Regions from separate parts of the Homo sapiens genome. Here regions 2 and 3 are each linked to region 1. Evidence: fine-mapped expression QTL. A gene starts in region 1. Each other region holds a variant in brackets. All regions are shown on one strand. Distances are between the middles of the regions. Region 1 holds the start of ABCA1 (ATP binding cassette subfamily A member 1). Region 2 overlaps ABCA1 (ATP binding cassette subfamily A member 1). Region 3 overlaps ABCA1 (ATP binding cassette subfamily A member 1).

The links. PIP is the estimated chance that this variant, and not a neighbour inherited with it, causes the effect. A credible set is the group of variants that fine-mapping cannot tell apart.
Region 2: its variant is the best candidate, but not a certain one, in a credible set for the expression of ABCA1 in nasal epithelium (TOPMed, PIP 0.60).
Region 3: its variant is the best candidate, but not a certain one, in a credible set for the expression of ABCA1 in fetal neocortex (Walker 2019, PIP 0.89).

What each region holds. Positions count from the first base shown.
Region 1 is chr9:104,925,959-104,930,045 of GRCh38, reverse strand. It overlaps ABCA1 (ATP binding cassette subfamily A member 1), which reads left to right and starts at 1,891. Exons shown (of 50, transcript NM_005502.4): 1 at 1,891-2,111. It overlaps LOC105376196 (a long non-coding RNA gene), which reads right to left and starts at 3,257. Exons shown (of 3, transcript NR_188620.1): 1 at 2,136-3,257; 2 at 322-538. RefSeq lists silencers at 1,732-1,921, 3,258-3,497 and enhancers at 2,122-2,201, 2,522-2,581.
Region 2 is chr9:104,901,356-104,905,442 of GRCh38, reverse strand. ABCA1 (ATP binding cassette subfamily A member 1) reads left to right here. Exons shown (of 50, transcript NM_005502.4): 2 at 1,672-1,829. The coding sequence starts at 1,764. Among named protein-coding and RNA genes, the nearest start is that of ABCA1, 25 kb to the left of the region's middle. RefSeq lists an enhancer at 1,358-2,270. The variant C/GC (reference allele first, on the strand shown) is at 1,689.
Region 3 is chr9:104,896,190-104,900,276 of GRCh38, reverse strand. All of the region lies in intron 2 of ABCA1 (ATP binding cassette subfamily A member 1), which reads left to right. Among named protein-coding and RNA genes, the nearest start is that of ABCA1, 30 kb to the left of the region's middle. The variant ATTTATTTT/T (reference allele first, on the strand shown) is at 1,720.

The DNA of each region.
Region 1 (4,087 bases):
CAGGCTGGAGTGCAGTGGCATGATCTCGACTCACTGTAACCTCTGCCTCCCGGGTTCAAGCGATTCTCCTGCCTCAGCCTCCTGAGATAACAGGCGCTCGCCACCACATCTGGCTAATTTTTGTATTTTTAGTAAAGACTGGGTTTCATCATGTTGGCCAGGTTGGTTTCGAACTCCTGACCTGAGGTGAGCTGCCCACCTTGGCCTCCCAAAGTGCTGGGATTACAGGCATGAGCCACTGCGCCCAGCTCAGATCCATCCCTTTCTAAGGGCAAACAGTCCATGGTGCAAAGGGGCCATGCCACCCAGAGTTATGAGTACCTGGGACTCCAGAATTCCTTGCCTGGTGGCCTCCACATGCACTTCCAGGGCCTGCTTGGGCCTCTTCTATGGGTCTGTCCTGAGTGTTGATAGAACCACTGATGTGAGTACCTGGGCTTGAGCCGTGGCCTGGAGATCCTGTTGACTGTAGCATGGAGGGGGCTTGTGCAGCTGAATGTCTGTATGCAGGTGGTGGGAGTTCTGGAATATGATGGAGCTGGAGGTGGGAAGAGAAGTAGGCTTGGGGCAGCTCTCTCATGCCACCTCATTCTGGCCAAAACTCAGGTCAAACTGTGAAGAGTCTAAATGTGAATCTGCCCTTCAAGGTGGCTACAAAGGTATCTTTGTCAAGGTAGGAGACCTTGTGGCCTCCACGTGCACTTCCAGGGCCTGCTTGGGCCTCTTCTACGGGTCTGTCCTGAGTCTTCTATGAATCTGCCCTTCAGGGCAGATTCATATTTAGACTCTTCACAGTTTGACCTGAGTTTTGGCCAGAATAAGGTGACATTTAGTTTGTTGGCTTGATGGATGACTTAAATATTTAGACATATGGTGTGTAGGCCTGCATTCCTACTCTTGCCTTTTTTTTTGCCCCTCCAGTGTTTTGGGTAGTTTTGCTCCCCTACAGCCAAAGGCAAACAGATAAGTTGGAGGTCTGGAGTGGCTACATAATTTTACACGACTGCAATTCTCTGGCTGCACTTCACAAATGTATACAAACTAAATACAAGTCCTGTGTTTTTATCACAGGGAGGCTGATCAATATAATGAAATTAAAAGGGGGCTGGTCCATATTGTTCTGTGTTTTTGTTTGTTTGTTTCTTTTTTTGTTTTTGTGGCCTCCTTCCTCTCAATTTATGAAGAGAAGCAGTAAGATGTTCCTCTCGGGTCCTCTGAGGGACCTGGGGAGCTCAGGCTGGGAATCTCCAAGGCAGTAGGTCGCCTATCAAAAATCAAAGTCCAGGTTTGTGGGGGGAAAACAAAAGCAGCCCATTACCCAGAGGACTGTCCGCCTTCCCCTCACCCCAGCCTAGGCCTTTGAAAGGAAACAAAAGACAAGACAAAATGATTGGCGTCCTGAGGGAGATTCAGCCTAGAGCTCTCTCTCCCCCAATCCCTCCCTCCGGCTGAGGAAACTAACAAAGGAAAAAAAAATTGCGGAAAGCAGGATTTAGAGGAAGCAAATTCCACTGGTGCCCTTGGCTGCCGGGAACGTGGACTAGAGAGTCTGCGGCGCAGCCCCGAGCCCAGCGCTTCCCGCGCGTCTTAGGCCGGCGGGCCCGGGCGGGGGAAGGGGACGCAGACCGCGGACCCTAAGACACCTGCTGTACCCTCCACCCCCACCCCACCCACCTCCCCCCAACTCCCTAGATGTGTCGTGGGCGGCTGAACGTCGCCCGTTTAAGGGGCGGGCCCCGGCTCCACGTGCTTTCTGCTGAGTGACTGAACTACATAAACAGAGGCCGGGAACGGGGCGGGGAGGAGGGAGAGCACAGGCTTTGACCGATAGTAACCTCTGCGCTCGGTGCAGCCGAATCTATAAAAGGAACTAGTCCCGGCAAAAACCCCGTAATTGCGAGCGAGAGTGAGTGGGGCCGGGACCCGCAGAGCCGAGCCGACCCTTCTCTCCCGGGCTGCGGCAGGGCAGGGCGGGGAGCTCCGCGCACCAACAGAGCCGGTTCTCAGGGCGCTTTGCTCCTTGTTTTTTCCCCGGTTCTGTTTTCTCCCCTTCTCCGGAAGGCTTGTCAAGGGGTAGGAGAAAGAGACGCAAACACAAAAGTGGAAAACAGGTAAGAGGCTCTCCAGTGACTTACTTGGGCGTTATTGTTTTGTTTCGAGGCCAAGGAGGCTTCGGGAAGTGCTCGGTTTCGGGGACTTTGATCCGGAGCCCCACATCCCCACCACTTGCAACTCAGATGGGACCGGAGGCGGTGTTAAATGGGGAGACGATGTCCTAGTACGAGCTCTGGTGACCCCAGGACTCTGCGCTGCTGCGCTTGGGGCTTGCCCGACGGTGGAGACCGGGGAGCATCTCTGGGCGTGGAGACCCGGGCGCAGTACCCCGGGCTCAGAGGGGTCGGGGGTTCCCGGGCGTGCTGAGGGCGCTGCTGCCGGGTGGGGAGAGCTGCAGGTCCGGCACCGAGCGCTGCTTTGTTCGGAGGGCCCTGAGCTGGCTAGAAACCCTTCTGGTTGCAGGTCGGCCAGTACCTACGGAGACAAATGCCAGCACTGAGTCTTCACTCGGTTCTTAAGAAGCTGGTCTGTTCTGACCTGGGAATTGGCTATATGCTCCCCGGGACTGGAGCGGCACAGTCCCGGACTGTGAATCCGGGAACTCGAGTTGGAGGTGTCCCAAACGGTCCGTGGTGCTATTGCTCACTAGAGGCCTTGGGTCTTTGTTTGACCTGAGGGGTAGGGAGGTCCTGCCTACAGTCTCCGTGCGCTCAGCTGAGCTGGTGTCCCTGGCGCAGAGCGCGGACGAGTTTTGTTTCCTTTTCTTTTTCTTTTTTTTCTTTCCTTTAAGTCTCGGTCTGTCGCCCAGGCTGGAGTGCAATGGAACGATCTCCGCTCACTGCAACCTCCGCCTCCCGGGTTCAAGCGATTCTCCTGCCTCAGCCTCCTGAGTAGCTGGGATTACAGGCGCGTCACCACATCCAGCTAATTTTTGTATTTTTAGTAGAGACGGGGTTTCAACTTGTTGGCCAGGCTGGTCTCGAACCCTCGACCTCAGGTGATCCACCGGCCTCGGCCTCCCCAAGTGCTGGGATTATAGGCGTGAGCCACCGCGCGCGGCCGAGTTTTGTTTCTTTTAAAAACAAGACTTAGGAGAGCCTGCGGAGACCCGGAGGTGGGGTGCCCAATCCTCCCTCTCCCACGTTCCCTGCAGCCCCATCTTCCAGACCGTTGCTGCTGGTCTCTCGGGGCAGCTTCTGCCTGGGCGCAGATGGGGAAGCTGGGCCGAGGTGGTGCCGTGGAATGACCGGGAGTAACCCCGGCGGGCGGCGCAGAACTCGGAGCTCCGCCGCGGGGCTGGGCTGGGCTCTGCCGTGAGGGTGGGGGTGCTGGGCGCGCGGGCTGCGGTGGCCCCCGGAGACTGGCCCGCAGCGCCTCCTGGCCGGAGGACCTAGGAATCGGCCGGCTCTACTAGGTGTCTTTGCTCGCGGTTCCGACTGTGAATCCGGTGAAGACCGGTGGTTGCAGACGGGGAGGAACTATGAGGTTGAGGCGAAAGCCCGTTTTGTTTTTTTTTTTTTGTTTTTTTGGTTTTTTTTTTTGTTAGCGTGTTTGCCAACTCCCAGGCCATTGGTAAAGCAGGAAGGTTCTTGGGGCGGCGGACGGTGCCAGGGTTATGTGTAGGTGCCTCTTTAGGTATATCTTTTATCAAAAAGAAGCAAAGAAATAAGATTAAAAATAAACAAAGAAAAAAGTTGTCTGGCACTGGCAGTAATTGGCCTGCCTTTGCAGCACTGATACCATTAGCTTTTAAAATCCGACTTTTCATTGACACTTCAAGAAGAGAATGGGTAGTATATACACATTCATCTCATAGTGGACAAATTTCATATTTAAAAAAACCTTCTGGGTACTGAAATCAGCAAGTCACTTGCCCTCCATGGCCGAATCCCTGCTTCCCACGAAGAGAACCTCACAAAAATTTCCCCCAAGTTAAAGAGTGGAATTTTCTTGATTTTTTTTTCTTTTTTTTTTAACGGCCGTAGTTTAGAACCCAGACTTAAATTATGATCTTCTTTTCAAACAAAACTTA
Region 2 (4,087 bases), 25 kb after region 1:
ATTGGAATACATAGTGGTAGGCTGTCTTTTCTTCTCAGACACTGCAATTTCCTCCAATCTCTTGACTTTTCTAGAAGTTTTAATCCAAGTCCTTGTTGGGTGGTAGATAAAAGGGTATTGTTCTACTAGAGACTGACCTTGGCATGGAGATCTCATTTGGACTCACAGATTTCTAGTCTAGCGCTTGGTTTTGTATCCATACCTCGCTACTGCATTCTTAGTTCCTTCTGCTCCTTGTTCCTCATGCCCAGTGTCCCACCCTACCCTTGCCCCTACTCCTCTAGAGGCCACAGTGATTCACTGAGCCATTTCATAAGCACAGCTAGGAGAGTTCATGGCTACCAAGTGCCAGCAGGGCCGAATTTTCACCTGTGTGTCCTCCCTTCCATTTTTCATCTTCTGCCCCCTCCCCAGCTTTAACTTTAATATAACTACTTGGGACTATTCCAGCATTAAATAAGGGTAACTGCTGGATGGGTGGCTGGGATACACAGAATGTAGTATCCCTTGTTCACGAGAAGACCTTCTTGCCCTAGCATGGCAAACAGTCCTCCAAGGAGGCACCTGTGACACCCAACGGAGTAGGGGGGCGGTGTGTTCAGGTGCAGGTGGAACAAGGCCAGAAGTGTGCATATGTGCTGACCATGGGAGCTTGTTTGTCGGTTTCACAGTTGATGCCCTGAGCCTGCCATAGCAGACTTGTTTCTCCATGGGATGCTGTTTTCTTTCCAGAGACACAGCGCTAGGGTTGTCCTCATTACCTGAGAGCCAGGTGTCGGTAGCATTTTCTTGGTGTTTACTCACACTCATCTAAGGCACGTTGTGGTTTTCCAGATTAGGAAACTGCTTTATTGATGGTGCTTTTTTTTTTTTTTTTTGAGACAGAGTCTCGCTCTGTCGCCATGCTGGAGTGTAGTGGCACAATCTTGGCTCACTGCACCTCCGCCTGCCAGGTTCAGCGATTCTCCTGCCTCAGCCTCCCAAGTAGCTGGGACTACAGGTGCCTGCCACCATGCCCAGCTAATTTTTGTATTTTTAGTAGAGACGGGGTTTCACCGTATTGGCTAGGATGGTCTCGATTTCTTGACCTCGTGATCCGCCTGCCTCGGCCTCCCAAAGTGCTGGGATTATAGGCTTGAGCCACCACGCCTGGCCGATGGTGCTTTTTATCATTTGAAGGACTCAGTTGTATAACCCACTGAAAATTAGTATGTAAGGAAGTTCAGGGAATAGTATAAGTCACTCCAGGCTTGAGGCAAAATTTACAAATGCTGCTGACTTTGTATGTAAGGGGAGGCATTTTCTTAGAAAAGAGAGGTAGGTCTCTGGGATTCCAGTATGCCATTTCCATCCTCAGTGTTTTTGGCCACCTGAGAGAGGTCTATTTTCAGAAATGCATTCTTCATTCCCAGATGATAACATCTATAGAACTAAAATGATTAGGACCATAACACGTAGCTCCTAGCCTGCTGTCGGAACACCTCCCGAGTCCCTCTTTGTGGGTGAACCCAGAGGCTGGGAGCTGGTGACTCATGATCCATTGAGAAGCAGTCATGATGCAGAGCTGTGTGTTGGAGGTCTCAGCTGAGAGGGCTGGATTAGCAGTCCTCATTGGTGTATGGCTTTGCAGCAATAACTGATGGCTGTTTCCCCTCCTGCTTTATCTTTCAGTTAATGACCAGCCACGG[C/GC]GTCCCTGCTGTGAGCTCTGGCCGCTGCCTTCCAGGGCTCCCGAGCCACACGCTGGGGGTGCTGGCTGAGGGAACATGGCTTGTTGGCCTCAGCTGAGGTTGCTGCTGTGGAAGAACCTCACTTTCAGAAGAAGACAAACAGTAAGCTTGGGTTTTTCAGCAGCGGGGGGTTCTCTCATTTTTTCTTTGTGGTTTTGAGTTGGGGATTGGAGGAGGGAGGGAGGGAAGGAAGCTGTGTTGGTTTTCACACAGGGATTGATGGAATCTGGCTCTTATGGACACAGGACTGTGTGGTCCGGATATGGCATGTGGCTTATCATAGAGGGCAGATTTGCAGCCAGGTAGAAATAGTAGCTTTGGTTTGTGCTACTGCCCAGGCATGAGTTCTGATCCCTAGGACCTGGCTCCGAATCGCCCCTGAGCACCCCACTTTTTCCTTTTGCTGCAGCCCTGGGAGCCACCTGGCTCTCCAAAAGCCCCTAATGGGCCCCTGTATTTCTGGAAGCTGTGGGTGAAGTGAGTTAGTGGCCCCACTCTTAGAGATCAATACTGGGTATCTTGGTGTCAATCTGGATTCTTTCCTTCAGGCCTGGAGGAATATAATAACTGAGACTTGTTTTATTTCTGCAGAGGGTTCTAAGCCATTCACTTCCCAGATGGGCCAATAATGCTTTGAGTAATCTGGAGATCATCTTTAATGCGCAGGTGAATGGAACTCTTCCACAGAGGGATGTGAGGGCTGTAGAGCAGAGTGAACTCCCTGAAACTCAGACGTCAGCTCTTTGTCTCTCTATCTCTGAACACCCTTCCTTAGAGATCCCATCTCTAGGATGCATTTCTCTGTAGTTAGTTTCTAAGTCTCTTGTTCCTGTTCTGCCTTTATTTTTTTTTCCTGGATTCTAAGCCAGTATCCCCACTTGGCTGTCTTAATGTAGCTTAACATGTCTGTAATCAAAATGATCATCTTTCTGAGATTCAAAGGGCTATAAGGGACTTTGGAGAGAATTTCATTCAGTTTTCCTCAAACTAGAATAATGCTTGCACTGTCTGTAAAAGAACAAAAGTGTCAAAGCATCCTTTTGTTCACTAAATTTCCTTTTTTATTATAGTGTTACTTAAATATTAGGAAGTAAAAGTAGGTATAAACTTCTTATAGGCTGTTATTATACAACTATATGACCCATACATATTTACAAATTAAGTGCAGCCAAAATTGCAAAATCAATACCATTCAAATTAATACCTTAAATGTGGTGAGGCAGCTGTTGTTCAACTGAAACCAAATTATAAGTTGCATGGCAGTAAATGCTATCATGCTGATCATTTTGAGTTTGGCCAGTCTATATTATCATGTGCTAATGATTGAATTCTCCACCCATTTTTCTACTTGTATGACCTTAATTTGATGGCACCTGTTCCATCCTCATGAGTTTGCTACAATTATACTGGTGCCAACACAATCATAAACACAAATATAAACTTGGGCTTTGAAATCTTGTGCCAGAACTTGGCTTTAAAGTAAGCATTTAAAAAATCCATATGTGTTTATTAGACTTTGTTTAGATGACTGTTGAAATGAAAACAAAGTGTTTAAAATCCTCTTAGAGAACTTAAATATAATCCCTCAGCAATATGTATACAGATCTTCCTTTGAGAAAAACTGATTGTGTTCAGCCTCTCATGTTACAAATGGGGAACCTGAATTCTGAGGTCTCTAGTGAGAGAACAGGGACTGGAATCTGTGGATCCTATCTGTTTTAATAATAATTGTAAAGTATAATAGATAATATTATATTAATAAAATAAAAGCAAACACTTAGAATGAGCTTCCATGTGTGAGGCACTAACTGATTAGGCATTATTAACTAGATTTATTCCTTTTAAGGCCCCGCGATGTACTGTTATTTCCACATGTTGTAGCTGGGGAACGTGCTACTCAGAGAGGTTAAGTAACTTGTCTGAGGTCCACACCACTAACAAGGAGCACAGGTAGGGTTCAAATCCAGATAATCTGACTTTGGAGCTGGCACTCTAACTCAATGTGCCTAATCGCTTTTCAGTGGTGTCATTATTTTGCCTATTCTCCATCTGAGAATATTGAAGTTTCTGACTCCTTCCTTGCCTTTCTCCCTGCCTCCCGTGGTTATCCCCAGGTCTTGGTGTTCCAGTCCTCTATGTCCGTCCTTACTCTTATTCCTTTGCTACAGTGTGATCCAGGGCTCCTGCCCCTTCTTATCCTGGTAGAGGGGGCCCACTTGCTGGGAAATTGTCTCCGCCATGGTTTATCCATGTTGTGTGTCCATTAGTGAGTAGTGGGAAGAATCATATCATGTTGGCAATGAAAGGGGGGCTATGGCTCTGGGGTAGTCTAGTCTGAACCTCTTATTTTACGGATGAGA
Region 3 (4,087 bases), 30 kb after region 1:
GGTCTTGAGGAGGCTCCCTTGCACTAGGAAGAATAGAAAGCATACATAAAGCCTGTGTGCTGCCGCCAGGAAGACTAGAAACGCTATGTTCAGCCTGGAGCTGAATGGTATACCCCAGAGCAACCCTGTTGAAAGGCAGTGCTTGCCTTTTCATTCTGTGTCCTGGTTTGCTGGTAACTCCTGGGTCCCCTGCCTCTCCTGTACCCCCATTGTGCAGACTGAGGGGGGACCATCAGCCAGGGTTAGTTTTCCGCTGTTTCTGTTAGGCAAAGAATAAATTGAATTGAGTTGTGAAAGTTGGGTGCAAAGCTCAGTTTGGGTCCAAAGTAACAGTTAACTTGTGTGGGTGGCAGGTATTCAGTACAAACAGGGCTGGGGACAGGAAGGGGAAGAGAACTTCAGAGCTTTCACGATCCTCATCTGGTTTTAGGCTGATCCAGAGGCCAAGGTCCCCATGGAACAAACTGGACAAAGTGAGGGTGGCCACATGGCCTCTTTTCTTTTGCCTTTATTATTAATTTTCTCAAATAGATCTGACTAGTCATGTGGCTGGGAAAATAGTTAATTGTGATTTTTTTTTTTTTAAACTGAGTCTCACTCTATTGCCCAGGCTGGAGTGCAGTGGTATGATCTCAGCTCGCCGCAACCTCTGCCTCCCGGGATCAAGCAATTGTCATGCCTCAGCCTCCCGGGTAGCTGGGATTATGGGCACACAGCACCACGCCTGGCTAATTTTTGTATTTTTAGTAGAGACATGGTTTTAGCATGTTGGCCAGGCTGGTCTTGAACTCCTGACCTCAAGTGATCCACCCACCTCAGCCTTCCAATCTGCTGGGATTACAGGCATGAGCCACTGCACCCAGCCAGAGTACCACTATTTGGGCATTCTTTAATGAAAAAGAATGAACTATCCAAAAATTAAAACTCCTCATTTATGAGCTTTTAGAGAATTTTACAGAGTAGATGGAAACTCTCTGCATCCTTTCCCCACTTCTAGTTTCACCTGACACATTTCTTCCCTGTCCTTACTCCTGGGCCGGCAGCAGTGGTCATGATTCCAATCCCAGCTTGGCCACCATCTGCCTCAGTGGCCTAGGAAAACTCCTTTCTCCAGAGCTTTAGTTTTCTCTTCTACGGAATGAAGAAAGTTAAAACAAATAGACATTTATTGTTTCATTTGGATAAATATCTATTAAGCATCTATTACTTGTGGTATGGTTAGCTGGGTATATAGTGGTGAAGCAGCTGGGCATGAGTACTGCTTTCGTAGAGCTTACAGTTCAGTGAGGCCAGCAGATGTGAAACATATCATCACACAAATAAAAATATAACTATCAACTGTGATGAGGATTATGAAGGAAAAAATCCGGCAAACTATGGTACTGGTGTTAGATACTAGCAGGTGTGGGTAGGGATTTCATTTAGATTGACAGGTTGTCACATTAAAGCTGAGAGCCCTGAAGTTCAAGCAATGGTTAGCCAGGCAAAGATCAGAGGCTTAGAGATAGGGAAATCCATTCCAGGCAGAGAGACTGGGGGTGCCTGTCCCCTAGGTCAGGGAACAGAAGAAAGCCAGTGGCACTGGTGGAGTGAATAAGACTGGCGGGGGATGAGTTGGTAGTAGACATGACCAGATCATTTAGGGCCAATTCTCCTGGGGAAGGAGAATTTAATTTAATATTTATTTATTTATTTATTTATTTATTTATTTATTTATTT[ATTTATTTT/T]TCAAGACGGAGTCTAGTTCTGTCGCCCAGGCTGGAGTGCAGTGGAGCAATCTCGGCTCACTGCAACTTTTGCCTCCTGGTTTCAAGCGATTCTCCTGCCTCAGCCTCCTAGTAGCTGGGATTACAGACGCCCACCACCATGCCCAGCTAATTTTTGTATTTTTATAGAGATGCGGTTTCACCATATTGGCCAGGCTGGTCTGAAACTCCTGACCTTGTGATCCTCCTACCTCGGCTTCCCAAAGTGCTGGGATTACAGGCGTGACCCACAGTGCCCCCTGAGAATTTAATTTTATTTTATGTGCAAGAGGATTCCCTGAGGTAGTCAGGCCACATTGTCTGGTGACTCTTGGGATAGAGGGAACTTGAATGACAAAGGCCCAAGAAAGCAATTGTAATCATTACATATACATGGACCATTTTATGCTGTTTTCTTCTTTCATTTAACATTATTTAGTGTGCGTGTTCACATATTTCTAAATCATCTTCTGATTTAGAATAATGATTTCTGATGTGTAGGCTGTGTTTTATAGTTTTGAAAGTAATACTTTGATATCCATTACTTTCTTGATTCTCACAGCAATTCTGAGGTGTATGCGTTGCAATTTCTGTTTCACAGATGAAGAGAGTATTGTTAATAAGTTAATGGCCGGGCATGGTGGCTCACACCTATAATTCCAGCACTTTGGGAGACCAAGGTGGGCGGATCACTTGAGGCCAGGAATTTGAGACCAGCCTGGTCAATGTGGTGACACCCATCTCTACTAAAAATACAAAAATTAGCCAGGCGTGGTAGCACTTGCCTGTAATCCCAGCTATTTGGGAGGGTGAGGCAGGAGAATTTGCTTGAACCTGGCAGGTGGAAGTTGCAGTGAGCCAAGATTGCACCACTGTACTCCTGCCTGGGTGACAGAGCGAGACTCTGTCTCAAAAAATAAAAAGTTGCTAAGAGGAGGGCTGGGATCTTTTGGCTCCAAATCTACTGTGGGATGATGCCTTTGACATTCCTGATAGCTGTGCAGTAATCCATTAACACAGTTTTTATAAGTTCAAACCCTGTTGCCAACATTTAGATTGTTCCATGTGTGCTGTTACAAATAAATTACTATAAAGATTCTATACATTTAATCTTTTATTATTTTTGTATTATTTCTGTAGGCCAAAATCTGAGGAACAGGATTACTAGGTTGAAGGGAAATGGCCCTTGAAGTGTCTGATCAGATGTCTTTCCAGAGGATCCAACCAATTTAAATAGCCACCATCAATGCATGAGACTTTGTAGTTCAGGGAAGGCAGGCCTGGTTTTAAAAATCATTTCCCCTCTCTAGCATTTTTCTGATGTGATCCTTAAGATTTCACTTTAGTTTTCCCAGGTCTCATTGGCATGTATGCTGTTAGGGATGGGTCTAAAATTAATTTTTCTTCACATTCATATCATGTCATCCCAGTGATTATTTAATAAATAATCACTTGATTAAATAGTGATTCCTTTTCTAGTTATTTTTGGGACATTTATTAAAACCTGGATATGGTGGCTCATGCCTGTATTCCCAGCACTTTGGGAGGCTGAGGTGGGGGGATTGCTTGAGACTAGGAGTTCAACACCAGCCTGGGCAGCATAGCAAGACTCCATCTCTATAAAAATAAGGAAATTAGTCAGGCATGGTGGTACTTGCCTGGAGTCCCAGCTACTTGGAAGGCTGAGGTAGGAGAATTGCTTGAGTCCAGGTGGTCAAGGCTGCAGTGAGCTATGACCATACTACTGTACTCCAGCCTGGGCAACAGAGTGAAACTCTGTCTGAAAAAAAAAAAAAAAAAAAAAAAAAAAAAAAAAAAAAGATGTGTAGGGAGCAATTTTGGAGTTATTCATTTGGTCATTTGATATGTAGTTTTAGTTTTGGTGCTGATAGAGCCCAGAATGTACCCTGAATTTGATGAACATTCTGATATATGGGGGAGCTCATTGTCCCCCACTTACCTTTTTGCCTCTCAGAATATCTTTTGATATTTTTATCTGTTTTTTCCCCATTGAATGTTATTACCTTATCAAGCTCAAAAAAGTACCCTATCGCTATTTTAAGTTCAGTTGTGTTAAATCTATAAATTAGCTTGGGAAATTTGGATATTAAATGAACTCATGAAGAAGCAGAGTTTAGCTCTCCTTAATTCTCATCTTCCTTTATTTATCCTACTACAGTTCTGTGGTTTTCTTTTATGTAAGAAGCACATGTTTGGCTAAGTTAATGCCTAGGTTTTTTTGTTTATGTGTCCATTCTCACTGTGGATAGTATTCTCTTTTCCCCACATTATATTAATTTAACTGGTTTTCAGAGACTAATAGCAATGCTATTATTTAGGAG